7 linked regions of the Homo sapiens genome follow. Changing the gene in region 1 together with any one later gene gives a genetic interaction. Each region holds a gene or a part of one and is shown in the gene's direction. Other genes may lie near its edges.

Evidence for each region.
Region 2: changes in MTBP (region 1) and RRM1 together harm fitness more than expected from each alone (negative genetic interaction), as found in Homo sapiens cells (one large-scale study listed by BioGRID).
Region 3: changes in MTBP (region 1) and COX5A together harm fitness more than expected from each alone (negative genetic interaction), as found in Homo sapiens cells (one large-scale study listed by BioGRID).
Region 4: changes in MTBP (region 1) and XRN2 together harm fitness more than expected from each alone (negative genetic interaction), as found in Homo sapiens cells (one large-scale study listed by BioGRID).
Region 5: changes in MTBP (region 1) and MFAP1 together harm fitness more than expected from each alone (negative genetic interaction), as found in Homo sapiens cells (one large-scale study listed by BioGRID).
Region 6: changes in MTBP (region 1) and EIF3C together harm fitness more than expected from each alone (negative genetic interaction), as found in Homo sapiens cells (one large-scale study listed by BioGRID).
Region 7: changes in MTBP (region 1) and COPE together harm fitness less than expected from each alone (positive genetic interaction), as found in Homo sapiens cells (one large-scale study listed by BioGRID).

Annotation. Positions count from the first base shown.
Region 1 is NC_000008.11:120,514,704-120,518,609, forward strand, and holds part of MTBP (mdm2-binding protein), read left to right. Parts: intron 1-511; coding exon of another isoform or gene 512-515; exon of another isoform or gene 516-533; intron 534-599; exon of another isoform or gene 600-727; intron 728-1,221; coding exon 1,222-1,488; intron 1,489-3,147; coding exon 3,148-3,397; intron 3,398-3,906. UniProt on the Homo sapiens protein: Inhibits cell migration in vitro and suppresses the invasive behavior of tumor cells. May play a role in MDM2-dependent p53/TP53 homeostasis in unstressed cells. Inhibits autoubiquitination of MDM2, thereby enhancing MDM2 stability.
Region 2 is NC_000011.10:4,118,735-4,122,640, forward strand, and holds part of RRM1 (ribonucleoside-diphosphate reductase large subunit), read left to right. Parts: intron 1-1,110; coding exon 1,111-1,194; exon of another isoform or gene 1,195-1,236; intron 1,237-2,869; coding exon 2,870-3,031; intron 3,032-3,406; coding exon 3,407-3,486; intron 3,487-3,906. UniProt on the Homo sapiens protein: Provides the precursors necessary for DNA synthesis. Catalyzes the biosynthesis of deoxyribonucleotides from the corresponding ribonucleotides.
Region 3 is NC_000015.10:74,924,242-74,928,147, reverse strand, and holds part of COX5A (cytochrome c oxidase subunit 5A, mitochondrial precursor), read left to right. Parts: intron 1-1,260; coding exon 1,261-1,382; intron 1,383-3,906. UniProt on the Homo sapiens protein: Component of the cytochrome c oxidase, the last enzyme in the mitochondrial electron transport chain which drives oxidative phosphorylation.
Region 4 is NC_000020.11:21,301,897-21,306,390, forward strand, and holds the start of XRN2 (5'-3' exoribonuclease 2), read left to right. Parts: upstream 1-1,434; 5' UTR 1,435-1,502; coding exon 1,503-1,577; intron 1,578-1,601; exon of another isoform or gene 1,602-1,642; coding exon of another isoform or gene 1,643-1,951; intron 1,952-4,494. UniProt on the Homo sapiens protein: Possesses 5'->3' exoribonuclease activity. May promote the termination of transcription by RNA polymerase II.
Region 5 is NC_000015.10:43,807,346-43,811,251, reverse strand, and holds part of MFAP1 (microfibrillar-associated protein 1), read left to right. Parts: intron 1-1,337; coding exon 1,338-1,497; intron 1,498-3,906. UniProt on the Homo sapiens protein: Involved in pre-mRNA splicing as a component of the spliceosome.
Region 6 is NC_000016.10:28,724,690-28,728,595, forward strand, and holds part of EIF3C (eukaryotic translation initiation factor 3 subunit C), read left to right. Parts: coding exon 1-94; intron 95-229; coding exon 230-323; intron 324-1,915; coding exon 1,916-2,106; intron 2,107-2,331; coding exon 2,332-2,556; intron 2,557-3,906. UniProt on the Homo sapiens protein: Component of the eukaryotic translation initiation factor 3 (eIF-3) complex, which is required for several steps in the initiation of protein synthesis.
Region 7 is NC_000019.10:18,909,062-18,912,967, reverse strand, and holds part of COPE (coatomer subunit epsilon), read left to right. Parts: intron 1-1,896; coding exon 1,897-1,997; intron 1,998-3,906. UniProt on the Homo sapiens protein: The coatomer is a cytosolic protein complex that binds to dilysine motifs and reversibly associates with Golgi non-clathrin-coated vesicles, which further mediate biosynthetic protein transport from the ER, via the Golgi up to the trans Golgi network.

The DNA of each region.
Region 1 (3,906 bases):
ATAAATCTAATGATGATGATAACAATAATAGTAACATACATTTCTTGACTGCCCTGTTTGCATGTTTCAGGCACTGATTCTAAGTGTTTATGTGTACAATTCAAGAAATTATCACAATAGCTTTTTCAGATAAGTACTATAATTCTCATTTTGCAGATGAAGCAACAGAATCATAGATAAAATTAAGTAATTTGGCCAAGTTCTCACAGCTAATAAGTAGAGGAGCCTGGATTTAAATCCATGGACTCTGACTCCGTAAGTCTGTATCAAATATGTAAGTGTCACAAGGGAAAGATAAGGTTCTTAAAACCTCCATCAAGCAGTCAGATGTTCAGGAAATGATAACACTCCTTGGGAGTTGAACTAAATCTTTTGGATACAAAAATCTGATTTTAGGCAGTATCTTAGAATTTTGCAGGTAAAAATGACAGGTCACAGAGAAAGGTTTTAATTTGTACAGTGCTACCATCACATATGTGAAGCCATTTGTGTTTTTTTAATGCTGTTGTAGATAAGGAAGAAAGTGAAGAGTTGTCCAAGGTCACACAGCTCCTAGGTGATCTTCCTGATATCCTTGTTTGTTGTACTTAACAACCTAGGATTTCTTTGAGTCCAGAAGCATTCACTGAGCTGACATTTCATTGATGCCCTGAATCAGATTCAGCTAGAAACCACATGCACAGACAGCCGAAGTGTTTGAAGGAAAATCTGTCAATTAGTTAATAAGGTGGGAACTGAGTTTCAAAGAAAAAATTCTAAATGTTCTAAGCTGTTTGGTGAGCCAGTTTAGAATGCCTTTATACCCTTTTAATCTTTGTGTTGAGAATAAACTTGCCCTTTCTAACAGAAGTCAGCAGTTCATGTTGTCATATATCAGCCATACTGAGAAATCAGGGGTTGGTAGAGTTTTAAAAAGCATTAAAACAGCAACTGTATTATTTTGAAAATAAGCCAAAGGATTAACTTAATCTGTTGCCCAGAAACACAAGTGAAAGAGAAACACAAGTGAAAGACATTTTTTAATCTTTTGCCATATCATATAGCAAACTAGAAGAAAACTGAACTTGGGAGGGAAATAGGCCAGCCACTCAACCTTCCAGCAATTATTAGGAAATTAAACAAGAACTCTTAAAGTAAATGTCCTGCTATTTTCTCATTGAAAGGGGAAAGTCTGTTGCTCTCATGGAGGTTTACATTTTAATGCTCTTTCACTCATTTTAGATATTGCTTGGATGACCGAAAAGCTTTGGAAAGAGATGGAGGATTTTCTGAACTTCAGTCTCGTCTTATTCGTTATGAAACTCAAACTACCTGCACCAGAGAAAGTTTTCCAGTACCTACTGTGTTGAGCCCTCTTCCATCTCCTGTAGTTTCGTCAGATCCTGGAAGTGTCCCTGACGGAGAAGTTTTACAAAATGAACTTCGAACTGAAGTATCCCGATTGAAACGGAGATCTAAAGATCTGAATTGCCTTTATCCCAGAAAAAGGTGATATATTACATGCACATAAATAGTATATTGACAGAAAGTATTTTAGTCTCGAGGATTTTTATTTTATTTTATATTAGTCTTTCAGGTTAATTTCTTCATGGCAAGAAGTTTGTTTTATGAGCTGTTGATAATTTTGCTTATAAGTTATAAAAATAAATGATTTGGGAAAAAAACACAGTTTCTTGCTTTATATGCTAATATACAGTCCATTAGCACAATGGATTGTAAAGTTTTTAAGCCATGGAACAGTGGAGATTTCACCCCATAGATTAAGCTGCTGAGCTGCCCTGTTGAAGAGACTGTTTGGGGATGGGAGTTCTCCCATTAGCTCTTCCTTTCCTTTCCCCTCAGTTTCCTGCCTGCATTGTTCCCTTGAGCAAGAGATTCCATGAGGTACCATTTTTAAAACACCTGTTACATATAAAATATAGCTTTAAACACTGCATAATGATAGAATATATGAAACTTTTCTGGATGCGTTAGTTTGCTAACTAAATGAAATATCCAGATACTTGATCAGAAGTTAGAAGTTTATGTAGTGAACACTAATTTTTATTGAATTTATGTTATCTTTAGAACCTTTGTCAAACTTAGGTTCTTGGCATCTAAAGCAAGGCTTGAATTCTTATTGTATTTAAACCTTGCAAAAAGTATGAACTATATGAAAACATAACTTTCAGATCTTTTTTTGAATAGTTAAGAAAGTTAGAATAAGGTTACCCTGATATGGAAGAACTCAGTCATTTTTATGAGGACTTTATAAATTCATGGTACTTTTTATACCTGATAAAATTAAAAAGCAGCAGTTACATTTGGGGTACTATATTTATAGCCATATTTCTTATTTCTGACCTATGGCTAATAAAAATATATGTGTTCCTAAAAGGAATGTATACTGTGGCTTCTGGGTCAGCAGAATTGAGGGCTATAAGACCCTATCTTGTAAAGGGAAAAATTTGGGCCTTGTCAGGAACAAATGTAAACATTTTAGGAAGATTGAAGTATGAACCAGTTTTATAGTTTATTTGTATTTGTTTTAACACTATGACTTATTTTGCAAGGGAGTTCCATGGGTATAAAAAGATACAGGTTGTGGTGTTTCTGTTCAAATTATCTTAACAGAAAAGTATAAATATTTAACAGATTAGTATTAAATCTATAAATAGCAGCACTCTTGGCATGCATAGCTGATTTATTTGAGAAATTGTAAATTGGAGGGATGGGAGAGAGTATAACAATATTGTTTGTTGCTTTCTCTATTAGCCAAAATCCTAGTTTGCTATTCATTACCTTCTATGTGTTAGTTACTCATCTGAAGAACTAAGGAACAACTTTATAATATGATGTTTATTGCTTACTTAAGGCAGTAATAGCAATAAATTTTGTTTGCTTTTCTTGAATTTATGTTATAATGGATATAGTGGTAACACTATAACATAGTGGTATAGTGTTATATATTATGTAATATATTATGTTATATATTATCTATTATGTAATAACAGTGGTATAATATAGTGGTAACACACTGGTAAGACAGAAAATGAACTTCGATGTTGATTCACTTAATGGATATAGTTGTAATATTTAAGACAGAAAATGAACTTCGATGTTGATTCGCTTAATCTACGTTCTTGATTTTTTTCCCCTGCTATATAGACTTGTGAAATCTGAAAGTTCAGAGTCTCTTCTTTCTCAGACAACTGGTAATAGTAATCACTATCATCATCATGTGACATCCAGAAAGCCACAAACAGAACGGTCCTTACCAGTGACTTGTCCATTGGTTCCAATTCCTAGCTGTGAAACTCCAAAACTTGCTACAAAGACCAGTTCAGGTCAAAAAAGTATGCATGAATCAAAAACATCAAGGCAAATTAAGGAATCAAGATCACAGAAACACACACGGGTAAAGATTTATTTCCCATTTTTCTTAGTTCTACATAGGAAGACTTTTTAAATTTGATTACTTTAAAATATATGTCTAAAAAATTTTATGAATGAAATGAAACGATGTCTAGAATTTACTGGTGTAAGAAGGATGATAGGAAAGTAGGTGGGGATATAATTGAAACAAGATTAGCCACAGATTAATCATACTTGAAGCTGGTTAAAAGATATATCAAGATAGAAATTTGTTATAAAATATTCTGTGCGTGTCAAATATTCTCTACTTTTCTATGCTTGAAATTTCCCATAATAAAAAATAAATATACACTTACATATCCCTGCTGTGTGTAACTTTAACACTCAGATTTCAATTCAGAACTCATGATTTGAGTTCCTTTCTTAAGACACTGTAGTCATTTCCTGCTAACATATTATTCCTGTGACACTTCTGACCATGTAAATGTTAGATCTTTTTTTTCTCAATCATTTTGTCTTAATGAACCTGTCTGTCTTTTAGCACAGCAAAAT
Region 2 (3,906 bases), on another chromosome or scaffold:
ATTGATTGCTTACTGTATGTTAAGTTTGTTATAAATGTTTTACATGAGGTACTCATTTGACCCTTACTACAACGCTATGAGGTAACTATGATTATAGACTCATGCCAGGAATTTTATTCCTTAAAATAACCTTGTGAATAAAGGTACCATTGTCTAATTTTACAAGTGAGGAAATTGAGACTTAGAAAGTTGTTACTTTCTGAGATCAATCACTTAATATGTGGTAGAGCCAGGATTCAAGATTTATGCATTGACACTTTATGATGTAAACTTTAGCCCTTTGTTAGTTTACTGTTCAATGGGAGTCAAGATAATAGTTTTGGATTTAAATCCTAGCTCCACTACTTAACTAGTAATGTGGCCTAGAGTTAGTTATTTTGTGTCTGAGTTTGTTTCCTTTTCTGTAAGGTGAAGAAAATATCTAACTCTGTAGAATAAAGTTCCAGAAGGAAATTATTCCATTATGTTGTGTTTTGGAGGTGCTGTGATATATACAGCACTTTACACAGTGGTAGAGTGAGCTATTGCTCACTTATCTTTCTAGACTGTTTAAAGGCTTGTGTTGGGATCAGAAGGGTTAAAGAATTTGATGAAGTATCTTCTAGTCGTAGGAGTCTCTATTTTCTTAACATCATTCTAGAGTCCACTTATTGCTGAGAATCTCCTTTTACCTTATTTATTGCCCTGATATAGCTATCGCATATAATTCTTATTGTAAATTGCCTTGATTTCTTTTGGGAAAAAGGCATTGTAGTAGTGTTTATATTCTTTTTTACTCTACCCAAAGTGTATCTTTATATAACGACCTTTAGAAGATGTAGAGTTTAAATTTAGCTACCTTGATTTTGGATCCCTTTGGCCTGTAATTGTTACATCTCATTATAAATTAGAAATGCCATGAGGTAACTTAGTACATAATTGTAATTTATTCAACATTTTGTTGATTTTATTTGGGCATTTTTCCAAAGCAGAAGTAGAGATGGAGAGCAGGTAAAACTTCATAGATTGCTACCTAGAAATTAGGCATCTTTTTTGATAAAAGAATGGGGCCATTTTTTTCTTTTCTTTGCTGAGTGCCCTCTGTCATTTCTATCATGGTCTCTCTTTTAGACTAATGGCAATTCCAATGGCCTTGTACCGATGCTGAGAGTATATAACAACACAGCTCGATATGTGGATCAAGGTGGGAACAAGGTATGCTCCATGAATTGAAAGTACTGGAAATCAGAACTAAAGGTGATTTAGTCATATACACTTAAGATGGTTCATTTATGTGTAGTTTCTAATTACCTTTTTTTTACTTGTAAAATCAATTTGAGGAGGTATAATTATTTTAATATGCATATACTTTAAATGTACAGTTTGATGGGTTTTGACAAATGTATACACTTGTGTAATCACCACATTGATAAAGAGGTAGAACATTTCCATTACCCCAAAATCTTTTCTCCCTCATATACCTTTACATTCAGTCACCCCTGTCACCCCTACCCACACATACTTTATCCCTGGCTCTAGACAGCCACTGATCTATTCAGCTTTCTTACATGATAGTTCGTTTGCAAAGAATTTCTCAAGTTGTAATTCATATAAATTTGTTACTTGAAATGGGGTTGTAACATGTGCTCTAGGTTTTTCTTTCGTTTTTTTTTTTATCTCTCTCTTATCACCCAGGCTGGAGTGCAATGGTGCGATCTTGGCTCACCGTAGCCTTGACCTCCTGGACTTAAGTGATTCTTCTGCCTCAGCCCTCCCATGTAGCTCAGACTATAGGCCTGTGCCACCACACCCAGCTAATTTTTATATTTTTTGTAGAGGCGGGGGTCTCACTTTCTTGCCTAGGCTGATCTCAAACTCCTAGGCTCAAGCAATCTACCTGCCTTGGCCTCCCAAAGTGTTGGGATTATGGGTGTTAGCCACTGCACCTCGCCTAGGTTGTTCTTAAAACAAAAACAAAAACTACCTGGAATAACAAAACTCTCCCTAATTGGCTGGATGCAGTGGCTCCTGCCAGTAATCCCAGCACTTTGGGAGGCTGAGGTGGGCTGATCGTGTAAGCTCACAAGTTCAAGACCACGAGTTCAAGCTCACGAGTTCAACATGACGCAACCCCATCTCCACAAAAAATACAAAAATTAACCGGGTGTGGTGGCGAACGCCTGTAGTTTCAGCTTCTCTGGAGGCTGAGGTGGGAGGATGGCTTGAGCCCGGTAGGCAGGAGGTTGCAGTGAGCCGAGATTATACCACTGCACTCCAGCCTGGGCGGTAGAGCTAGAACTTGTCTCAAACAAAACAGAACAAACAAACAAAAACTCTCCCTAATTGATAGAAGAAACAGTAAAGTTGAGAGAATTGGGTTGTTTACCTTATTTTATCAACAGGATGGTTTACAACTAGAGTCTGCCTTTTGTGACTGTAGGCACACTAATCGCTTGTTGGTTTATGAATTTCTCTCTGATGGACTTTGGGGACCTTGATAAGACAGATCAACTTTTTGACCTACAATAAGAGCATGGCTTATACTGTCAAAGCAACTTCCTTTGGGCTTTATGTACATGTCATGTGGTGTAAAGAGAGCTGGGCTGTTGCTGAAGAGGAGGCTCCATCTGTAGTTCATCATGTCACTTTAGAAAAGTTAATCTTGTTTCACATTTTGTTTATATCATTCGTTCGTTTTTACTCATAGAATTGTAAAATATTACTTTTACAATTATATATGGAAAACTTACACTTTTATAATACTTTTATTTATGTTATTTAATTCATTGTAGTGAAAATCAAAGGAGATACTATAAAAGTGCTTTGGGAGACATGATGTTTCTTTGTTTCATTTTTATTCTGAAGAGAATTATGATTTATTTACCACTAGCGTCCTGGGGCATTTGCTATTTACCTGGAGCCTTGGCATTTAGACATCTTTGAATTCCTTGATTTAAAGAAGAACACAGGAAAGGAAGAGCAGCGTGCCAGAGATCTTTTCTTTGCTCTTTGGATTCCGGATCTCTTCATGAAACGAGTGGAGACTAATCAGGTGAGAGATAGGTACTTGTTGGTAATAGCAACTTGATTCACATGAGCTTTCTCTTTTTTAGTCATCTTAAGTCATGCTTAGGAAGAGCCCATATGTGTGTGATGCCACAGAAGGCATTCTGAACAAGTTAAGAGATGCCGTGCTTGTCTTCTTATATTTCTATTCTCTAAAGTAGATGCTTTGTGACCTAAATGCTTAAAAGGTCATGTATAAACAGGCAGACCTAGATGTTTGGGCCTGAACCTGAAAATGATTATTTCTACAGCAAATTTCCAAGAGAGCTTGTAAAAGTCACCTTATGCTTGCAGTGTTTCTAATGGATTATGGTTGGCTATTTGAAGTTTCTTATGAGTGATTTTGTCCTTTCCTTTTTAGGACTGGTCTTTGATGTGTCCAAATGAGTGTCCTGGTCTGGATGAGGTTTGGGGAGAGGAATTTGAGAAACTATATGCAAGGTATGGGAAAAATATGAAAGAAAACAATAATGTTTTAATCATGGTTTCTCTTATTTCAGGGGTCCAAATATCAAAAGTACTTGTCAAGAATCTTTTGAAGCATCTAAGAGAAAAAGTGACTAATAATTTTGGTCAGATTTGCTTCCTGACTCTTCACCAAAATTGAGTTGTGTCTTCTTCTTTCTTAAAACTTTGGAATGTATAAATAGGTTCTTGGGATTTTTAATTGATCCTTTTAAAATTTAAGATGACTAGTAGGGTTATTATTTTGCTCTGTCATATAGTACTTTTGATAAGCTATGCTTTATGTTGCATAAAGGAATCATGAGTGACTAGGACACATATGTCAGTAGTTTATTAAAATTAAATAGGTCAGGTGCAGTGGCTCACATCTGTAGTCTCAGCACTTTGGGAAGATGA
Region 3 (3,906 bases), on another chromosome or scaffold:
TAAAGTAATAAAAGCAAGAAACCTAAGTGCTTTAAACTTCTCTGCAGAAATGTAATGATTCCCTTTTGCTACAACCAATAGAATTCTTACTGAACAATCTGGAGTAGAAGTAATAAAAAGAACAATTATGTATTCCCATTAAGAGAATCTTAAATTTTATTATGTGTCATTTTGTGCAGATCTGAAAGTAATCATGCCCAATCATTTTCTGGTTGAATGTTTATGAGTCTGTGTACTAATGTTTCTCTATAATATCTCCTTAATGTCCTCATTTAGGCTTCATTAACTCTACGCATTTCTCTGGCTGTTTTTAGGCTGTTTTCCAGTTGAATCTCTTTTATTTTGGTTTTTTTGTTTGTTTGTTTTGTTTTGTTTGAGATGGAGTTTCTCTCTTATTGCCCAGGCTAGAGTGCAATGGCGCGATCTCAGCTCACTGCAACCTCCACCACCTGGGTTCAAGTGATTCTCCTGCCTCAGCCTCGAGAGTAGCTGGAATTACAGGCATGTGCCACCACGCCCGGCCAATTTTGTATCTTTAATAGAGACAGGGTTTCTCCATGTTGACCAGGCTGGTCTTGAACCCCTGACCTCAGGTGATCCACCTGAGCCCAGCCTTGAATCTCTTTTAAAGCATCCAAAATGTGTTCATTGTACTAAGAGTTAAAGATAGGAGGGCCGGATGTGGTGGCTCATGCCTGTAATCCCAGCACTTTGGGAGGCCGAGGCAGGTGGATCACGAGGTCAGGAGTTCAAGGCCAGCCAGGCCAAGATGCTGAAACCCCGTCTCTACTAAAAATACTAAAATTAGCTGGGCTTGGTGGCACCCGCCTGTAATCCCAGCTACTTGGTAGGCTGAGGCAGGAGAATCACTTGAACCCAGGTGGCAGCGGTTGCAGTAAGCTGAGGTGGCACCACTGTACTCCAGCCTGGGTGACAGAGCAAGACTCCATCTCCAAAAAAAAAGTTAGGAGTTGAAAATGACCCTCTTGTTCTCAAAGGGGAAAAAAAAAACTCAGGATTTTTTCCTTCAATCTGCGTGCTGTTGCATAGTTCTTTCTTTCCACTGATTCACTAAGGGAGATCCACTGTGATCTTATTATCTAGAATTTGTTAAAGGTAGGTTTCTCTCATTTTATAGGTAAGAGAATGGAGACCCAGACAGATAAGATCATACATCAGTGATTCAGTAAAAATATAAATAACTCATAGTTTAAGTGAGGCTCTTCGAGGTTGACATGGCCCTTCTTTTTAATTTTGCAGGGATAAACACACTTGTTACCTATGATATGGTTCCAGAGCCCAAAATCATTGATGCTGCTTTGCGGGCATGCAGACGGTTAAATGATTTTGCTAGTACAGTTCGTATCCTAGAGGTTGTTAAGGTCAGTGAAATAATAATGCTAAAATTGTTCTGTAAATGAGTGGGCTATTGCTGAGGTATCAGAATATTCTGTATTTTTGAATTTGTTAAAATGCCTAAAATGAGTCCTTATATAACTAGAAGGAATGTACATTGCAGTTAAAATCTTTCTAGAGGCTACTTTGGCAGCATTTATTCAAGGCCTTACAAATTGTACATGATACACTTTTGTTCAGCAATTCCATTTAAGAATTTATCTTTTTTCTTTTTTCTCTCTTTTTTTTTTTTCTTTCTTTTTTAAGAATTTATCTTGGCCGTGTGTGATGGCTCATGCCTGTAATCCCAGCACTTTAGGAGGCTAAGGCGGGTGGATCATGCAATGTCAGGAGTTTGAGACCAGCCTGGCCAACATGGTGAAACCCTGTCTCTACTAAAAATATAAAAATTAGGCCAGGCGCGGTGGCTCACGCCTGTAATCCCAGCTCTTTGGGAGGCCGAGGCGGGCGGATCACGAGGTCAGGAGATCGAAACCATCCTGGCTAACACGGTGAAACCCTGTCTCTACTAAAAATACAAAAAAATTAGCCGGGTGTGGTGGCAGGCGCCTGTAGTCCCAGCTACTCAGGAGGCTGAGGCGGGAGAATGGCGTGAACCCGGGAGGCAAAGCTTGCAGTGAGCCAAGACAGCGCCACTGCACTCCAGCCTGGGTGACAGAGCAAGACTCTGTCTCAAAAAAAAAAAAAAAAAAAAAAAAATTAGCTGGGCATGGTGGCACATGCCTGTAATCCCAGCTACTTGGGAGGCCCAGGCAGGAGAATTGCTTGAACCCGGGAGGCGGAGGTAGCAGTGAGCTGAGATCGCACCATTGCACTCCAGCCTGGGCAACAAGAGAGAAACTCCGTCTCTAAAAAAAAAAAGAAAGGAATTTATCAAGGAAATAATAAAGGATATATAAAGATTTAACTACAAAGTGTATTCATCTTCTTGCTATTTGTCATACGAAATGTTAGGAATTCTTAAGAGGGAGCTTCCCAGAACTGGTTATACTACACAACTGTTGATACTGTAGAAATGTGTTTGACTTTAAACATATTTGTGTCGGCTGGGCACGGTGGCTCACGCCTGTAATCCCAGCACTTTGGGAGACTGAGGCAGGTGGATCACCTGAGGTCAAGAGTTCGAGACCAGCCTGACCAAGATGGAGAAACCCCATCTCTACTGAAAATAAAAAATTAGCCGGGCGTGGGGGTGCATGCCTGTAATCCCAGCTAGTCGGGAGGCTGAGGCAGGGGAATTGCTTGAACCCGGGAGGCAGAGGTTACAGTGAGCCAAGATGGCACCATTGCACTCCAGCCTGGGCAACAAGAGAGAGAAACTCCATCTCAAAAAATATATATATACATTATATGAAAACATAGGAGGATATATACTAATTTTCCTCCTTCTTATTTGGTCATAATTTCTGAGTTTATTTATTTTTTCGAGACAGAGTCTCACTCTGTCGCCCAAGCTGGAGTGCAATCATTGCGTGATCTCAGCTCACTGCAACCTCCGAGGTCTCCTGGGTTCAAGCAATTCTTCTGCCTCAGCCTCCCGAGTAGCTGGGATTACAGGCTAATTTTGTATTTTAAGAGACGGGGTTTCTCCATGTTGGTCAGGCTGATCTCAAACTCCTGACCTCAGTTGATCCGCCCGCCTCAGCCTCCCAAAGTGCTGGGATTACAGGCGTGAGCCACCACGCCCGGCCGGCACTTTCTTAGTTCTTTTGACTTCTTATTCGTTCCTAAGGAACCTTGTGACAGCACAGGTGTAACTATATATTACAGTGAAAAGTCTCCAGCCCTGGACATATGTATTCTCAAAGTACAGCTCTCCATGAAAAGATACTGTGGTCTGTAAGAAAGAAACTTAAGGTCCGTTAACAGCAAAAGTGTGACATTACTTTATCTATAATGGGTAAGATAATTAAGGGTTCTGTAGGCTATCAATCCATTCAGCACTGGTAGTTAATTCAGTTAAGGTCTCAAATTGGAGGCAAATGAAAAAACTTTTCCCGTTAACTTAATTATTCGTGTTGCCTGCTGGGCATGTCTAATTGCCTTCACAAAATTCTGTCATCACTACCTTCTTTTCCAGTAATTCTAGACTTTAAGATGTTCTGGATTTAGTCCAATTGCAGTTATTCTCAAGGTATTTCAAAAGCCTACCTTGAACAGTACATATATAAGTTGCCCTCTTTATTTTTATTTAATTATTATTATTTTTTTGAGACAGAGTCTCGCTCTGTCCCCTAGGCTGGAGTGTAGTGTCATGATCTCAGCTCACTGCAACCTCCGCCTCCCTAGTTCAAGCATTCCCGAGTAGCTGGGATTACAGGGGCGTGCCACCACACCCAGCAAATTTTTGTATTTTTAGTAGAGACGGGGTTTCACCATGTTGGTCAGGATGGTCTCGAACTCCTGACCTTGTGATCCACCCGCCTTGGCCTCCCAAAGTGCTGGAATTACAGGCATGAGCCACGGCACCCAGCAAGTTGCCCTACTTAC
Region 4 (4,494 bases), on another chromosome or scaffold:
TCCAGCCTGGATGACTGAGACTCCGTCTGAAAAAACAAAAACAAAACAATAAACCCTCCCAACCCGCCAAAATGCTGGTTAAGGATTCTAAATGGCTCAACTTGGCCAGCTGTCTATCCCTGAACTGCCTATGGTGTACATGTTCCTATAACAGCACCTCCCAGGGAAACCAGAGGGGCTGCTTCCAGGTAAAAGGAGGAATTTCACCATAGACATAATACTTTGGAATAGTTTTGGCTATCCTTAAGTAAAACACGGGATGACTATTTCTCTAATTTCCACACTAGTAGTTTAAACAAAGTAGTCATCAGACCACAGAGGAGGGGGCAATAAATACTGCCTGTGAGGTAACTCGGCGAAATACTTTCACAGAGGCCTCATGAGGTGAGCATTTAGCATCGTGTGTGATGTGTGTCAAACCAAGAGGGGATTCAGGGAGACTTCCAGGCTTGAGCAAACGGACAAATATACCTCCTCTTCCAGACCTCTCCTTTCATATGGAAAAAATTCGTTTGGGACCACCAGAAAACAAAAGATAAAAGTATCGTGTTAGAACAAGGATGGATTAAAAATGACCTTTGCTTGAACTGAAACAGAAGCTATGTGCATAAGTGACTTAACTCCTCTGTAACTTGGCTTTCTTATCATTTACACGAGGGTGCTAACAGTACCCTCACAAGGTTCAAGTGAAGATTACATAGGACAATCCCTTAGTCAATGTCTTGGTACACTGTAAAGGCTCAGTAAATGCTGGAAAATCATATTAGCAACTATTTTATACCCGTAATTGTAGCTGGAAGATTGTATTGGATGCTAAATACCGGCTAGATTCCATTCGGTAACTATCATAATTATTTATTTGCATAACAATCAAATTATTGGTGCAAAGCAGCCATTATTACTGTAAAATGCTTTAAAATGCTCCTTTTGATAGTCCAGGTACGTACTGCAGCACAAAACTAGGAGAAACCAGGAAATGGAAGTAACGAGTAAGTTTGGATGCTTCGATTCTACCCTAGATTGAGACGGGTGAGCATAGAGGCAAAAAAAGACATTTTCTTCCAAACAAGAGGTGACCAAACGGGCAAGGGAGACCTCCTCCCGGGCATGCAGAGCGCAGCGATTCTGTGCCCAGGGAGCCGGAGGGCTGGGGCTGGGAGATCCCGGCGGAGCCCCGGCAGAGCAGTCGCCCGTGAGCCCCCGCAACTCAGACGCGCTCGGCCTCGCGCTCCGGGGCTGGGACCACCGAGGGCGAGCTGCAGCCTTCGCCACCCGGTCCGCCGCCGGACTCCGCCTCCCACAAACAGCCCGGCAAGGCCCTTTTCCGCCGCTCCCTCATCCAGCGAAGCCTCCTTCCCAGCTTCCCCGGCGGCGGCGCCGTGACGTCACTTCCGTTCTCCAGCGCGCACGTGGGAGGAAGTGCTGGTGCCCTCTGCCGCTGCTCCCGTCTCTTTGGTTACGCTCGTCAGCCGGTCGGCCGCCGCCTCCAGCCGTGTGCCGCTATGGGAGTCCCGGCGTTCTTCCGCTGGCTCAGCCGCAAGTACCCGTCCATCATAGTCAACTGCGTGGAAGAGAAGGTGAGGAGGCGCCAGGCGGCCGCCACACTCGAGCCCGGGCCCCCGGCACGTCTAGGCCGCGGCCCATGGGCTCCGCCGCCTGCCCCCGGGGAGCCTTGCCGGAGCTCGCGCCCTGCTGCCAGCCTCGCGAGCAGTCGCAGCCCCACACGCGATGGGACGCGGGCTGTGGGATTCAGCACCCCGGGGGCGAGGAATTCAGGACCCTCGGCGGGGCAAGGGCCTATAGGGTTCCGAACTCGCAGGAGGGTCGCTCCTCCCCTACTCGCTTTTTCCCGGCACCGGAAGGCCCCGCCCACTGCTTTGTTTCCTCTCCAGACCGCGCATTTTGGGTCTCGGAAGAGGTTCAGAGGCTGTTGTTGAGCAATGCATGCCAGGTCAGCTGAGCTAGCGGGTTATGGATGCACGGATTCGGAGGCCAGCTTTTTGACAACCTTGTAAAGGAATCCCTGGCGGCGACCTTTTCGTTGTTTACCAATTGTGCCGGAAAGGTTTTCTCCTAGTGTTCAGGACCATTTGTTGTTCTGGTTAGATTGGACGCTGAAAGCAGTATGTCAGGTCCAGGATGAGCGCTATAGAATTCTGAGAAGTTACCCTTCTCTGTGTGCCCTGACTACTGAACGGGGTGGGTGCTTGTTGAAAATTTCAAGATTACTGGATGTACTTGAGCAGTACAATTTTTGTTGTTAGTTAATACGTAAGTAGATTTTTGGCCATTATTGAGTTTTGTTTTTATTGTTTTCGTCATTCCATGCGGATTCGATTTTGTGCTCTTAATTAGAATTTCTGGATTGGAAACGTTCAGAGGCACATCACGCGTACCTCACTCCTTAGTTTTTGAAGGCAGTGCTTGCCTGTCACTGTGAACTTATTTCTGCTTTTTTTTTTTTTTTTAACTTTCTTGGCTTCTATCCAAGGAGGAACCAAAAGCCTTGTCTTAGTGACATTCCCACTATTTCTTGTTTTTTTCAAAAAGCAACTGCTAAATTGAATACTTGTTTCCTTTGTAAAATTTTAATCGAACTTTATTGAACTTTACTTGCACGTGGGTTAAACAAAAAGCAACAGTTCTTGCTCTACCCCTTCTCATCCCATTTCTCCACCTTTAACTGTTTTGGTTCTGTCTCTAAGTATCATACTTATACGTTATCACTTTTAGATCTGTTGAATTCTAGCTGGAATAGGAGAGGATTTAGTCACCTATTCAGCCCTCCCTCTATACTCTTAATGGAGTAAATCACTAGATATATATTTTTATTGGTAAGCTTTATAACTAAGTAATTTGCCTTTTTCATTCCATCGCCTGTGTAACGTATCCCTTGACTCAATGCTTTCTAAGGTCGATCTTAGCTTTTCTTCCCTTTCACCTCAAGTTTGTCAGCTGTACTTTTGCGTTGTGGGCATCCAAAATTAAATGATCAGGGCTTTGACTATACAGATTTAAAATGCTGAAAAATCAGATAGGATAGTTGACTATTGACACTGTGTAGATTCAGGTTATGTACTGTGATTTTGTTTTTTGTGCTGCTTTTGTCTTTTTCCCTGGGGCTGTCTTTCTTTTTCCACTTTACATCTTGCCGCGCCCGGACTCTATTTTACCAGGTAGTCTATCAAGAGTCATCTTTCTTCTTGAATAGTCCTTCTTGGGGTCTTATTTATTTTTGTTGCTGTCACACCTGGCTATTCTGTAGGCTTGCTGGAAAGCTGCATCTGGGATTTTATTATTATTATTGCTATCATATCTTTCTTCAGTGGGAGGTACTGTTTTCTGGATCATCATCTTACTTCATTTGTTTATTTATTTAGAGACGGAGTCTCGCTATGTCTCTTAGGCTGGAGTACGGTGGCATGATCTCGGCTCACTACAACCTCTGGCCTCCTGGGTTCAAGCCATTCTTCTGCCACAGCGTCCAGAGCAGCTAGGACTACAGGTGTGCGCCGCCACGCCCAGCTGATTTTTTTTTAGTAGAGACGGAGTTTTGCCATGTTGGTCAGGCTGGTCTCGAACTCCTGACCTCAGGTGATCCGCCTGCCTCAGCCTCCACAGTGCTGAGACTACAGGCATGAGCCACCATACGTGGCCTTTTTTTTTTTTTTTTTTTTTTTGGATTTTTAGTAGAGACGGGGTTTTGCCATGTTGGCTATGCTGGTCTCTGTCCTGACCACACGTGATCCGCCTCCCTGGGCCTCCCTTGTGCTAGGATTACAGGTGTGAGCCACGGCGCCCGGCCCATCTTTCTTCCTTTAAATCGTTTTCTTAGTTTTTATTCTTAATTCTTTTTTTTTTTTTTTTGAGACGGAGCCTCGCTCTGTCTCCCAGGCTGGAGTGCAGTGGCTCAATCAATCTCGGCTCACTGCAAGCTCCGCCTTCGGGGTTCACGCCATTCTCCTGCCTCAGCCTCCTAAGTAGCTGGGACTACAGGCGCCCGCCACCACGCCTGGCTAATTTTTTTGTACTTTTAGTAGAGACGGGGTTTCACCGTGTTAGCCAGGATGGTCTCGATCTCCTGACCTTCTGATCCGCCTGCCTTGGCCTCCTTATTCTTAATTCTTAAGAAATGCTGTGTGGGATGTGAGATTTCCGAGTCATTGTAGGACCCAAAATAGCTCCATTCTACCCTTATACACGTGAATGATCATTAGCTAGGCATGGAATTCGAGGTGTTTTTTTTTTCTTCTTCTTTGAGACGGAGTCTAGCTCTGTCACCCAGGCAGGAGTGCAGTGGTGTGATATCGGCTCACTGCAGCCTCCACTTCCCGGGTTCAAGCCGTTCTCCTGCCTCAGCCTCCCGAGTAGCTGGGACTACAGGCGCGCCACCACGCCCGGCTAATTTTTGTAGTTTTAGTAGAGACGGAGTTTCACCATGTTGGCCAAGCTGATCTTGAACTCCTGACCTCAGGTGATCCACCAGCCCCTGCC
Region 5 (3,906 bases), on another chromosome or scaffold:
GTAGAGGTGGGTTTTCACCATGTCGGCCAGGCTGGCCTTGAACTCCTGACTTCAGGTGATCCACCCACCTCGGCCTCCCAAAGTGCTGGGATTACAGGCATGAGCCACCACGCCTGGCCCTCAGCCTGTAGTTTCTAAGATTTTTATCCTGGACCTGTAGGAGTAGGAGTCTAAGTGCCCTTTAAAATTGTACACAAGGCCGGGCGTGGTGGCTCACGCCTGTAATCCCAACAATTTGGGAGGCCGAGGTGGGCGGCTCACAAGGTCAGGAGTTTGACACCCGCCTGTCCAACATGGTGAAACCCTGTCTGTACTAAAAATACAAAAATTAGTCGGGCATGGTGGCACACACCTGTAATCCCAGCTACTCAGGAGGCTGAAGCAGGAGAATAGCTTGAACCTGGGAGGCAGAGGTTGCAGTGAGCCAAGATCATGCCACTGCACTCCAGCCTGGGCAACAGAGCAAGATTCCATCTCAAAAAAATATAAAATTGTACACAAAATTGTGTGTATGTATGCATTTTATTTGGAGACAAGGGATATCACTCCCTCTCCCCAACACTGGCTAAAAAGTTACTGCAATCTGGCTGGGCGCAGTGGCTCACGCCTATAATCCCAACACTTTGGAAGGCCAAGGCGGGCGGATCACGAGGTCAGGAGATTGAGACCATCCTGGCTAACACGGTGAAACCCCGTCTCTACTAAAAATTCAAAAAGATTAGCTGGGCATGGTGGCGGGCACCTGTAGTCCCAGCTAATCGGGAGGCTGAGGCAGGAGAATGGCATGAACCCAGGAGGCGGAGCTTGCAGTGAGCCAAGATCACACCACTGCACTCCAGCCTGGGCGACAGAGCAAGACTCCATCTCACCAAAAAGAAAAAAAAAAAAAAAAGTTACTGCAATCTAATTAATGATGGTAATCTTTGGTTTATGACATGCAAGCACCTATATGATTATGATACACTTACATAAAGGAATACCAGCAAAGCCTCAGACACTTATTTTAAATTCACTGATTTTTTTTTTTTTTTAAAGCTAAGAAGACCTTTTAGGGAAAGAGAATTTGTAATGTTGGAAAACCCAGCAGTAATAGTATGTCTGAACGTCAGAAGGGCTAGAATCAACTTTTGAAAGTTGGCAATACCTAGTCTAGCAAACATAATGAAGACTAACTCACCCATTTGTTTATTGAGCTCCTTATCTTGATTCCTAATAGGCAATGACTAGAATTAAAGAAGGTGACTAATACTTGAAATGACATGGGACTGTTATTTTCAGATAATTTGGTCTTTCTGAAGCTGTAACAGTACCAATAAATTGTTTTGCTCCCTGGACAGGCTTGAGAAGGAGAAAGCAGAAATTGAACGCATGCGAAACCTGACTGAGGAAGAGAGGAGAGCTGAACTTCGGGCAAACGGCAAAGTCATTACCAACAAAGCTGTTAAGGGCAAATACAAGTTCTTACAGAAGTATTATCACCGGGGTGCCTTCTTCATGGTAAGAAGTGAAAAGAGAGTCAGAAAATTGGGCAGTAGGAATAACTCAGAAACTTTGAATTATTTTTCTCTTCAAGAATATTCTGGAATGTAATTTCCACTTGCCAGTGGTCAGCTTTCTCATTTGCTTTTTCCTTCTGAACAATATAAACTCAGAGAAAAGCATCAGCAATTGGATGACAGAAGTAGCATCAACTGTTCTCTCTTTTGGCCCCAACTCTCAAAAATAGGAAATGATGTAATAGACTTTTTTTTTTTTTTTAAGAGACAGAGTCTCGCTGTCACCCAGGCTGGGGTACGGTGGTGCGATTATAGTTCACTGCAACCTTGACGTCCTGCGCTTTACACCTGCTTCAGCCTCCAGAGTAGCTGGGACTACAGGCATGCAACAACCATGCCTGGCTTTTTTTTTTTTTTTGGTTATTTTTTTTTTAATTTTTCGTAAAGACCAGGTTTCACTATGTTGCCCAGGCTGGTGTTGACCTTCTGGCCTCAAGCAATCCTCCCACCTCAGCCTCCCAAAGTATTAGGAATACAGGCATGAGCCATCATCCCCAGCCTTAGATAAATTGAGGAAATGAAATAGAGAAGTGATCTGTACAGATAGTGGACTAATTAGGTCCTCCACATGACATAGTTGTCATTCTTTCATAGCTGAATGAGAAGTTTTGGTTATGTGAAAACCAAACTCTGCAAATAGCTTTACATTAATTCACTTTTGGGTGGCAGAAAGTTAGTTCACTTCATTCTGAACTGACAGTACCCAAGAGTAACTAACCAAAAAAAATGGTTTATTATCTAACCATTAGATGGAATGCCGTCATCTTTGTTTTTCATATAAAGACTAAGATCAAAATAGCAATCTGTTAACCCTGTATGGTTTATTTCCTAATGTTAAAGCAGTTTGCACCAAAAACTAGACTAGCTTTTTCAAGTGCCGTGTGGCAAATTCTAAATATCCCCACTGCAACTAAATTCCTGCCTTTCACTGCAGATGCTGTTAAAACTTCAGTGGCGGCTTCCCTGCCACCCTCCAAAATCAGTTTCAGGTCTATCTGATTAGCAGGAAGTGTTTACTTAGGTAGTTTTCCAGCAGATGTAGCTTACTATTCAGTGGAGATTATGAACTACTTCTTGTACTGCTTCGGTCATAAAGTTTGTTTGCTTAAGCAGTTCGCAGCTTTAATAATCAAGTTTCTTAGAGAAGCAGTTCATTGCTAGTTAAGATACATAAGAAAAGTGTATGTGAAAGTCCTTTGGTGGGCCAGGTACATTGGCTAATGCCTGTAATCTTAACATTTTGGGAGGCAAGGCCAGCAGATCAGTTGAGCCCAGGAGTTCAGCCCGGGCAACATGGCAAAACCCCATCTCTACAAAAAATACAAAAATTAGGCGTGGTGGTCCGTGCCTGTAGTGTCACCTATCAAGGGGCTGAGGTGGAAGGATTGCTTCAGCCCGAGAGGTTGAGGCTGCAGTCAGCCGTGATCGTGCCACTGCACTGCAGCCTGGGTGGCTGACCAAGACTTTGTCTCAAAATAAATTGTTTTTAAAAAGTCTTTCTTAAACAAGATAGTGCTATTTTTAATTCCTTCAGCATATGTGTTTATAAATATGTATCACAGCATTGTAATATTATCACTCAGGCTAGAGTGCAGTGGTGCAGTCATGGCTCACTGCTGCCTCATTCTCCTGGGCTCAAGCAGTCCTCCTGCCTCAGCCTCCTGAGTAATTGGGACTACAGGTGTGTGCCACCACACCTAATTTCTATTTTGTAGAGATGGGTTTTGCTATGTAGCCCAGGCTGGTCTCAAACTCCTGGGCTCAAACTCTCCTTCCACCTTGGCCTCCCAAAGTGCTGGGATTACAGGCAAGAGCAACTGCATCCAGCCTTACTAATGTTGTTTATTTCATTGAGTAAGTAAGCTTTAGTGCATATACTATGCAAAGGTCACTGTTTAGCACTGTTAGCGAGAATACATAATCACTATAACATAAGTAAAAGTAAAGTACTGTAGGGGTTCTGACGAGAGAGATGTTATATTTGGTAGAAGATTGAAAGGGTTGACGTAAAGGTTGTAACATTTAAGCATTTAAGATGTATAATTTTGGGCCGGGCGCGGTGGCTCACGCCTGTAATCCCAGCACTTTGGGAGGCCAAGGCAGGCGGATCATGAGGTCAGGAGATTGAGACCATCCTGGCTAACATGGTGAAAACCCATCTCTACTAAAAATACAAAAAATTAGCTAGGCGTGGTGGCGGGCGCCTGTAGTCACAGCTACTTGGGAGGCTGAGGCAGGAGAATGGCGTGAACCTGGGAGGCGGAACTTGCAGTGAGCCGAGATCACGCCACTGCACTCTAGCCTGGGCGACAGAGTGAGACTGTATCAAAAAAAAAAAAATTAAATATAT
Region 6 (3,906 bases), on another chromosome or scaffold:
CAATGAGCTGATGGATATCCTGTTTGCAAATCCCAACATTTTTGTTGGAGAGAATATTCTGGAAGAGAGTGAGAACCTGCACAACGCTGACCAGGTAAAGGGAGGAGTTGGCAGGATAACTGGAGGTGTGTATTTTATGCTTTGGGAAGGCTCAGTGGGACCCGAGGGTTGAGGTTTGAGACTGAGATCTGGGCTAATTTGTTGACTCCTCCTTCGCCTTCCTTTTCAGCCACTGCGTGTCCGTGGCTGCATCCTAACTCTGGTGGAACGAATGGATGAAGAATTTACCAAAATAATGCAAAATACTGACCCTCACTCCCAAGGTGAGCCTGAGCAAGCGTGGGCTTTGCTGAGAGGAAAATTGTGGGGAATATTACTAGGTTTAGAGCTTTGTGAGGATTATACTAAGTCAGAGTGCTTGAAAAGCCAGCCTTTCAACTTACCTAGCGTTCACACGGAAGGGCCTGATGAGATGCTGGCTCCCAGTCCCATCGTTTCTGATTCCATAGGTCTGAGTGGGGCTTGAGAACCTGCACCTCTAGCCTGCTCCCAGGTTGCTGGTCTCAGGGCTATACTTTGAGAACCTTTGGGGTAAGGCATCTATTCACTTCTCTTGTTTAGCTTGGATGAGAGGCATTGGGGTGTGAAAGTGCAGCATAGTTTACTCAGTAAAAGTGTGAATGTGCCCATCAAGTCAAGGGTGTAGTGATTAACAAGGCAGCCAAAAGCTTACCTTTTGTGCTGGATGGAGAAAGGCAGATTGAAAAATAATAGTAGTAAGATATGGCCGGGCGTGGTGGCTCACGTCTGTAATTCCAGCTCTTTGGGAGGCCGAAGCAGGCGGATCCCGAGGTCAGGAGATTGAGACCATCCTGGCTAACACGGTGAAACCCCATCTCTACTAAAAATACACACACACACACAAAAAAAATTAGGCGTGGTGCTGGGCGCCTATAGTCCCAGCTACTTGGGAGGCTGAGGCAGGAGAATGGCATGAACCCAGGAGGCGGAACTTGCAGTGAGCCGAGATCACACCCCTGCACTCCAGCCTGGGCGACAGAGCAAGACTCCATCTCAAAAAAAAAAAAAAATAGTATGATGTTAAGATAATTCTGGGCCAGGTGCAGTGGCTCACGCCTGTAATCCTAGCACTTTGGGAGGCCGAGGTGTGTGAATCACCTGAGGTCAGGAGTTTGAGACCAGCCTGGCCAACGTGGCAAAACCCTGGCTCTACTCAAATACAAAAATTAGCCAGGCATGGTGGCAGGTGCCTGTAAATCCCAGCTATGTGGGAGGCTGAGGCAGGAGAATCCCTTGAGCCCAGCGGGCCAGAGGTTGCAATGAGCTGAGATCACACCACTGCACTCCAGCCTGGGCGAAAGAGTGAAACTCCATCTCAAAAAATAATAATAATAATTCTAGATGATATAAAGTTCAGAGTTAAACTAGGGCCCTGTGGTAAGAAGTGGCTGGAGGGGTGGCTGCTGTAGCTAACAGCTGGAGAAAGCACCCTTAAGTAGGGACCACCTGAGGTGAGATCCAATGAGGAGGAGTTAGGGGAAGAATCAGCTGAAGACAGCGCCTGACAGGAGGAGCAGAGAGCGAGCTTGATGTTCCAGGAGTAAAAAGGCCAGTGGGACTCCAGCACAGGAAGCCAGAGGGAGAATCGTGGGAGACCAGGCAAGGGCCAGGCCTGGCAGACCCTTATTGGCAGAGGTTGGCAGTTGGGATTTTTTTCCTAAGCTGTGGGACTGGAAGGTTCTGGGTCCTGGGAGTGGGAGATGGCCTTTCTGGGGCACACTGACTAGACTTTTCTGACGGGTGCAGAAGAGGGACGGGTTGATTGGAATGAGTGGGGACAGATGGGAAAGCCTGGCTGCCCAGCTGAGACAAGGGTGGGTGCTCTCCCTGCCAGAGTACGTGGAGCACTTGAAGGATGAGGCCCAGGTGTGTGCCATCATCGAGCGTGTGCAGCGCTACCTGGAGGAGAAGGGCACTACCGAGGAGGTCTGCCGCATCTACCTGCTGCGCATCCTGCACACCTACTACAAGTTTGATTACAAGGCCCATCAGCGACAGCTGACCCCGCCTGAGGGCTCCTCAAAGGTGAGCACGTGGCAGTCATGGCAGAGGGGAATGGGTGTGTCCACCTGTCCTCCACTTCTGTCAGGACTTGACAGCAAATCTGTTACTCTCTAGACTTCCGCAGGTGGAGCAGGGAGGGAAACTGAGGTATTAGAATGAGACTGGATAGAGTCTCATCTTTAGTTGCTAGAGCCTGTGCCTTTTAAAGCTGGATCTCCTTTGCAAATAACCTCCCTTCCTCCCCAGTCTGAGCAAGACCAGGCAGAAAATGAGGGCGAGGACTCGGCTGTGTTGATGGAGAGACTGTGCAAGTACATCTACGCCAAGGACCGCACAGACCGGATCCGCACATGTGCCATCCTCTGCCACATCTACCACCATGCTCTGCACTCGCGCTGGTACCAGGCCCGCGACCTCATGCTCATGAGCCACTTGCAGGACAACATTCAGCATGCAGACCCGCCAGTGCAGGTAGGATGGGGAGGCCTTGGAGGTGAAGGAGTGCCAGGCCCCTGGCCTCTTGGCAAACTGGCTTAACCAGAACAGCCACCTGTCTGGCCGGTGCAAATTTAAGTAGACACTTGGTCTTTCCCAGTTGCCAGCATCCTGCAGTCCTCCTGCATGTAAACACATAATTTCGTGTCAAAAAAAAAAATTATCCAGGCTTGGTAGTGCTTGAGCCCAAGAGGCAGAGGTTCCAGTGAGCCGAGGTTGTGCCACTGCACTCCAGCCTGGGTAATGGAGCAAGACTGTTCAAAAAAAAAAAAAAGCTGTGTCTGGAAGTGTAGATCATGTAAAAGTATATTTGAGGCAACTAGGAAATGTTTATGTGTAGAGCACCTGGTGAACCTGTCTGGGGGTACTGCTGGTTTTTAAACAGCCCTCCTATTTGTGTTTCTATTCTATGGTATGAACATATCACTGTGTCTGTTTTCCTCTTGGCGGACACCCAGTTTATTTCCAGTTTTTGGCTCTAATGTATGAAGCTGCTGTGAACATTCTTGTAAGAAACTCAAAAGTGGTTATACCATTTTACACTCCTGTTAGTGTTTGGGAGTTCCTTGTCAACTTTTGGTGGTGTTGGTCTTTTTTTGAGAGGGAGTCTCGCTCTGTCGCCAAGGCTGGAGTGCAGTGGTGCAATCTTGGCTTACTGCAACTGCCACCTCCCAGGATCAAGCGATTCTACCTCAGCCTCCCGAGTAGCTGGGATTACAGGTGCCCGCCACCACTTCCGACTAATTTTTGTAATTTAGTAGAGATAGGGTTTCACCATGTTGGCCAGGCTGGTCTCAAACTCCTGACCTCAAGTGATCTGCCTGCCTCAGCCTCCCAAAGTGCTGAGATTACAGGAGTGAGCCATCATGCCGGCGGTGGTATTGGTCTTTTAAACTTTTTTTTGTTTTTGTTTTTTGAGGCAGGGTCTTGCACTGTCACCTAGACTGAGTGTAGTGGCATGATCATGGCCCGCAGTAGCCTCAAATTCCCAGGTTCAAGTGATCCTCCCACCTCAGCCTCCATAGTAGCTGGGACTACAGGCATGTGCCACCATAGCTGGGACTACAGGCATGTGCCACCATGCCTGGCTAATTTTTTATTTTTTGTAGAGACAGGGTCTCACTATGTTGCCCAGGCTGGTCTCAAAGATCTTTTAGGGGTGTGTGTGTGTCTCTTTTAGGGGGTGTGTGTGTATCTTTTAGGGGTTGTGTGTGTATCTTTTAGGGGGTGTGTGTGTGTGTATCTTTTAGGGGTGTGTGTGTGTGTGTGTGTGTGTGTGTTTTGAGACAGAGTCTCGCTCTGTTGCCCAGGCTGGAGTGCAGTGGT
Region 7 (3,906 bases), on another chromosome or scaffold:
GCCGGGGGCAAGAGTGATGAACAGAGTAGAGGGTGGGGCTGGGGACAGGAAGGCACCACAGAGTGGGTGGCGGGGACAGTAAACAAAGCAGGGACCCAGGCCTGCAGTGTTCAGTGACTGTGAACAGCCAGCGCAGCCAGCATGTGAAGGTGGCTGTGTCACGGAGGCCTGAGACTGCCAGGCCAGGGGGCCTGGGTCACAGCTTCTTGATTTTTTTTTTTTTTTTTTTGAGACGGAGTCTCACTCTGTCGTACTCGATCTCAGCTCACTGCAACCTCCGTCTCCTGGGTTCAAGTGATTCTCCTGTCTCAGCCTCCCAAGTAGCTGGGACTACAGGCGTGCGCCACCACGCCTGGCTAATTTTTATATTTTTAATAAACACGTGGTTTCACCACATTAGCCAGGGTGGTCTTGAACTCCTGACTTCATGATCCACCTGCCTCAGCCTCCCAAAGTGCTGAGATTACAGGCGTGAGCCAACGCGCCCAGCCGATTTTTTTTTTTTTCCTAAAATAATTGGTAGGAGCCAGGCACAGTGGCTCACACCTGTAATCTTTGGGAGGCTGAGGTGGGAGGATCACTTGAAGCCAGGAGTTCAAGACCAGCCTGGGCAACATAGTGAGACCCCCGTCTCTACAAAAAAAAATTAAAAAATAAGACAGTCATGGTGGCATGTGCCTGGAGTCCCAGCTAATTGGGAGGCTGTGGCAGGAGGATCAGTTGAGCCCAGGAGGTCAAGATTACAGTGAGCCGTGATCACGCCATTGCACTCCAGCCTGGACAACATAGCAAGACCTTGTCTCTAAAAAAATAAGAATGGGGGCTGGGCCCGGTGGTTCACGCCTGTAATCCCAGCACTTTGGGAGGCCAAGGCGGGCAGATCACCTGAGGTCAGGAGTTCGAGACCAGCCTCAACATGGAGAAACCCTGTCTCTACTAAAAATACAGAATTAGCCAGGTGTGGTGGTGCATGCCTGTAATCCCAGCTACTTGGGAGGCTGAGGCAGGAGAATTACTTGAACCTGGGAGGCAGAGGTTTCGGTGAGCTGAGGTCACAGCATTACACTCCAGCCTGGGCACCAAGAGCGAAACTCCATCTCAAAAAAAAAAAAAAAAGGCCGGGCGTGGTGGCTCACACCTGTAATCCCAGCATTTTGGGAGGCCAAGGTGGGTGGATCACAAGGTCAGGAGATTGAGACCATCCTGGCTAACACAGTGAAACCCCGTCTCTACTAAAAATACAAAAAAATTAGCCGGGCGTGGTGGCGGGCGCCTGTAGTCTCAGCTACTCGGGAGGCTGAGGCAGGAGAATGGTGTGAACCTGGGAGGTGGAGCTTGCAGTGAGCCGAGATCACGCCACTGCACTCCAGCCTGGGCGACAGAGCGAGACTCCGTCTCGAAAAAAAAAAAAATGGGGAAGGAACCATCTAGGAGGGAACACAATGAGGGACGGGCCCCCAGCTGCAGATGTGACAGTGGTATCAGTCTGGGCATCCTCAGAGGGCCAGTAGGTGGGCAGGGCTGGCTGGGGGCATGTCCTGCTTTATAGAAGCGCATGTCACAACCCCCATAACTGCTGCTGCCCTGCCCCCAGGTGACACGCCCTTCACCTCACCACCAGAGGTGGACAGCTGCCAGGGGATAGACAGTAACCTACCAGGGTCCCTAGCTCAAGGCATGGGCAGTGTGGCCCTGCAGATGAGGGCACACCTGGCTGCTCACGACAGGTGACGCCATGCCACCCTCCACAGTGTACTGCAGTGGAGGTGGCCCATGCTGGGCTGAGGGGTCCCTGGTGGGGCAGGGACTTCCTGTCTGGGGCTCTCCCTGCCAAGCTGAAGACATGGAAATCCTCTGGGGTGGACGGGTGCAGCTGACGCCTCGTCCCTACTGCAGAGGAAGTTCGGTGTGGTCCTGGATGAGATCAAGCCCTCCTCGGCCCCTGAGCTCCAGGCCGTGCGCATGTTTGCTGACTACCTCGCCCACGAGAGTCGGAGGTGAGGCCCCAGAGAATGGGTTGGCCTGAGGCGCGGGGCCATCTTCAAGGCCTGTTGGTTATGAACCTGGGTGGGTGGGGGCATGGCGTGCAGCGCACAGCATCCCTCAGATTAGGCGCCTCTCCCCTCTGCTCCCCTGCTGCTTTGTGCCTCAGTTTCCCTCACCTGCACAGCAGTGGGGGGCTGGTGATGGATCCTGCTTCAAAGGGGAGGGTCAGAGACAGTGCTGTGTGTGCACACGCCCTCATGGACCACAAGGCACTCTCTGAACCTAGAACTGAAAATATCAATTACCGAGCAGCCCTCTGCAACACCCAGAGCCCCAAGACAGCCCAGGGCGCAGCGGGGGCAGGGCCCTCCCATCAGTTTTCTTATTTATTTATTTAGAGATGGAGTCTCACTCTGTCACCAGGCTGGAGTTGCAGTGGTGAGATCTCGGCTCACTGCAACCTCTGCCTCCTGGGTTCAAGTGATTCTTGTGCCTCAGCCTCCTGAGTAGCTACGACTATAGCTGCGTGCCACCACGTCCAGCTAATTTTTGTATTTTAGCAGAGACTGGGTTTCACCGTGTTGCCCAGGGTGGTCTCGAACTCCTGAGCTCAGGCGGTCTGCCCACCTCAGCCTCCCAAATCCTATCAGTTTTCTAGTCCCAGCTAGTTGGGGACTGCAACCTGCCAGTATCTCCCCTGGAGCCCAGTGGGAGGGTGGGTGAGGCCACGCCTGTCCTGCCCCTGAGCCACAGGCCAGCGTTGGTCAAACGCCCATGGGCGGCAGCCAAGGGGAGAGGGGGCTGGGCTGTGGGGACCCAGGAACCTTGCCCCCTCCTGCTGTGGGGTCGGAGTGAGGGTCTGGCATGGGGAGACTGCTGTGATCCTGCTCTTCCTTGGCCCACGGAGGCAGTGTCCCAACTACCGCCTCCCTTCACTCAAAGAAACCTGGGGTTCCTGGGAGCTGACTCCTGTGCAGAGGCAGCATGGTGGGGTGAATGGTGTCCCCCAAAAGGTACGTCCATATCCTATCCCACATGCTTGTGAATATGATATCATTTGGAAAAAGGGTCTTTGCCGATCAGATTAAGAGATAAGGAGATGAAGACATGCTGGATTTAGGGTGGGCCCCAAAGCCAAGGACTTGTGTCCTTTTAAGAGATAAAAGGAGGGCTGGGTGCAGTGGCTCATACTTGTAATCCCAGCACTTTGGGAGGACGAGGTGGGCAGATCACCTGAGGTCAGGAGTTTTCAAGACCAGCCTGGCCAACGTGGTGAAACCCCATTTCTATTAAAAATACAGAATTAACAGGATGTGATGTCTGTGATTCCAGCTACTTGGGAGGCTGAGGCAGGAGAATCGCTTGAACCTGGCAGGCAGAGGTTGCAGTGAGCCAAGATCGCACTAGTGCACTCCAGCCTGGGTGACAGCGGGAGACTGTCTTAAAAAAAAAAAAAAAAAAAGGAAAGAGGCCCACAGAGTTAAGCCCATGTGACAACAGACTGGAGTGACATGTCTGCTAGCCAAGGAGCACCACGAGTGGCCAGCAGCCACCAGAGCTGGGAGAGAGGCCTGGGACGGCCTTGCCCTCCAGCCTCCAGCTGGAGCCAGCCCTGCCGCCACCTTGACTTCAGACTTACGGCCTCCAGAGCTGTGAGGAACGAATCCCTGTTGTCCTTAACTGCCCGGGCTGTGGTGCTTTGCCACAGCAGCTCCAGGACATTGAGACAGGTGACCTCCCAGGGCCACTGTTTCTCCCACCCTGCACTTACTTCACCAGCTGGAGTGAAGGCAGGGAACCCTGGGTCCCCCAGGAGCAGCAGCTGCTGTGAGCATCACAGAAAAGCAGCCCCGGAGAGCAGGCGGTCCAGGCAGGGGCTTGTGGTCCGTTCATCTGGCTGCACAGCCGCGACCTCATTGG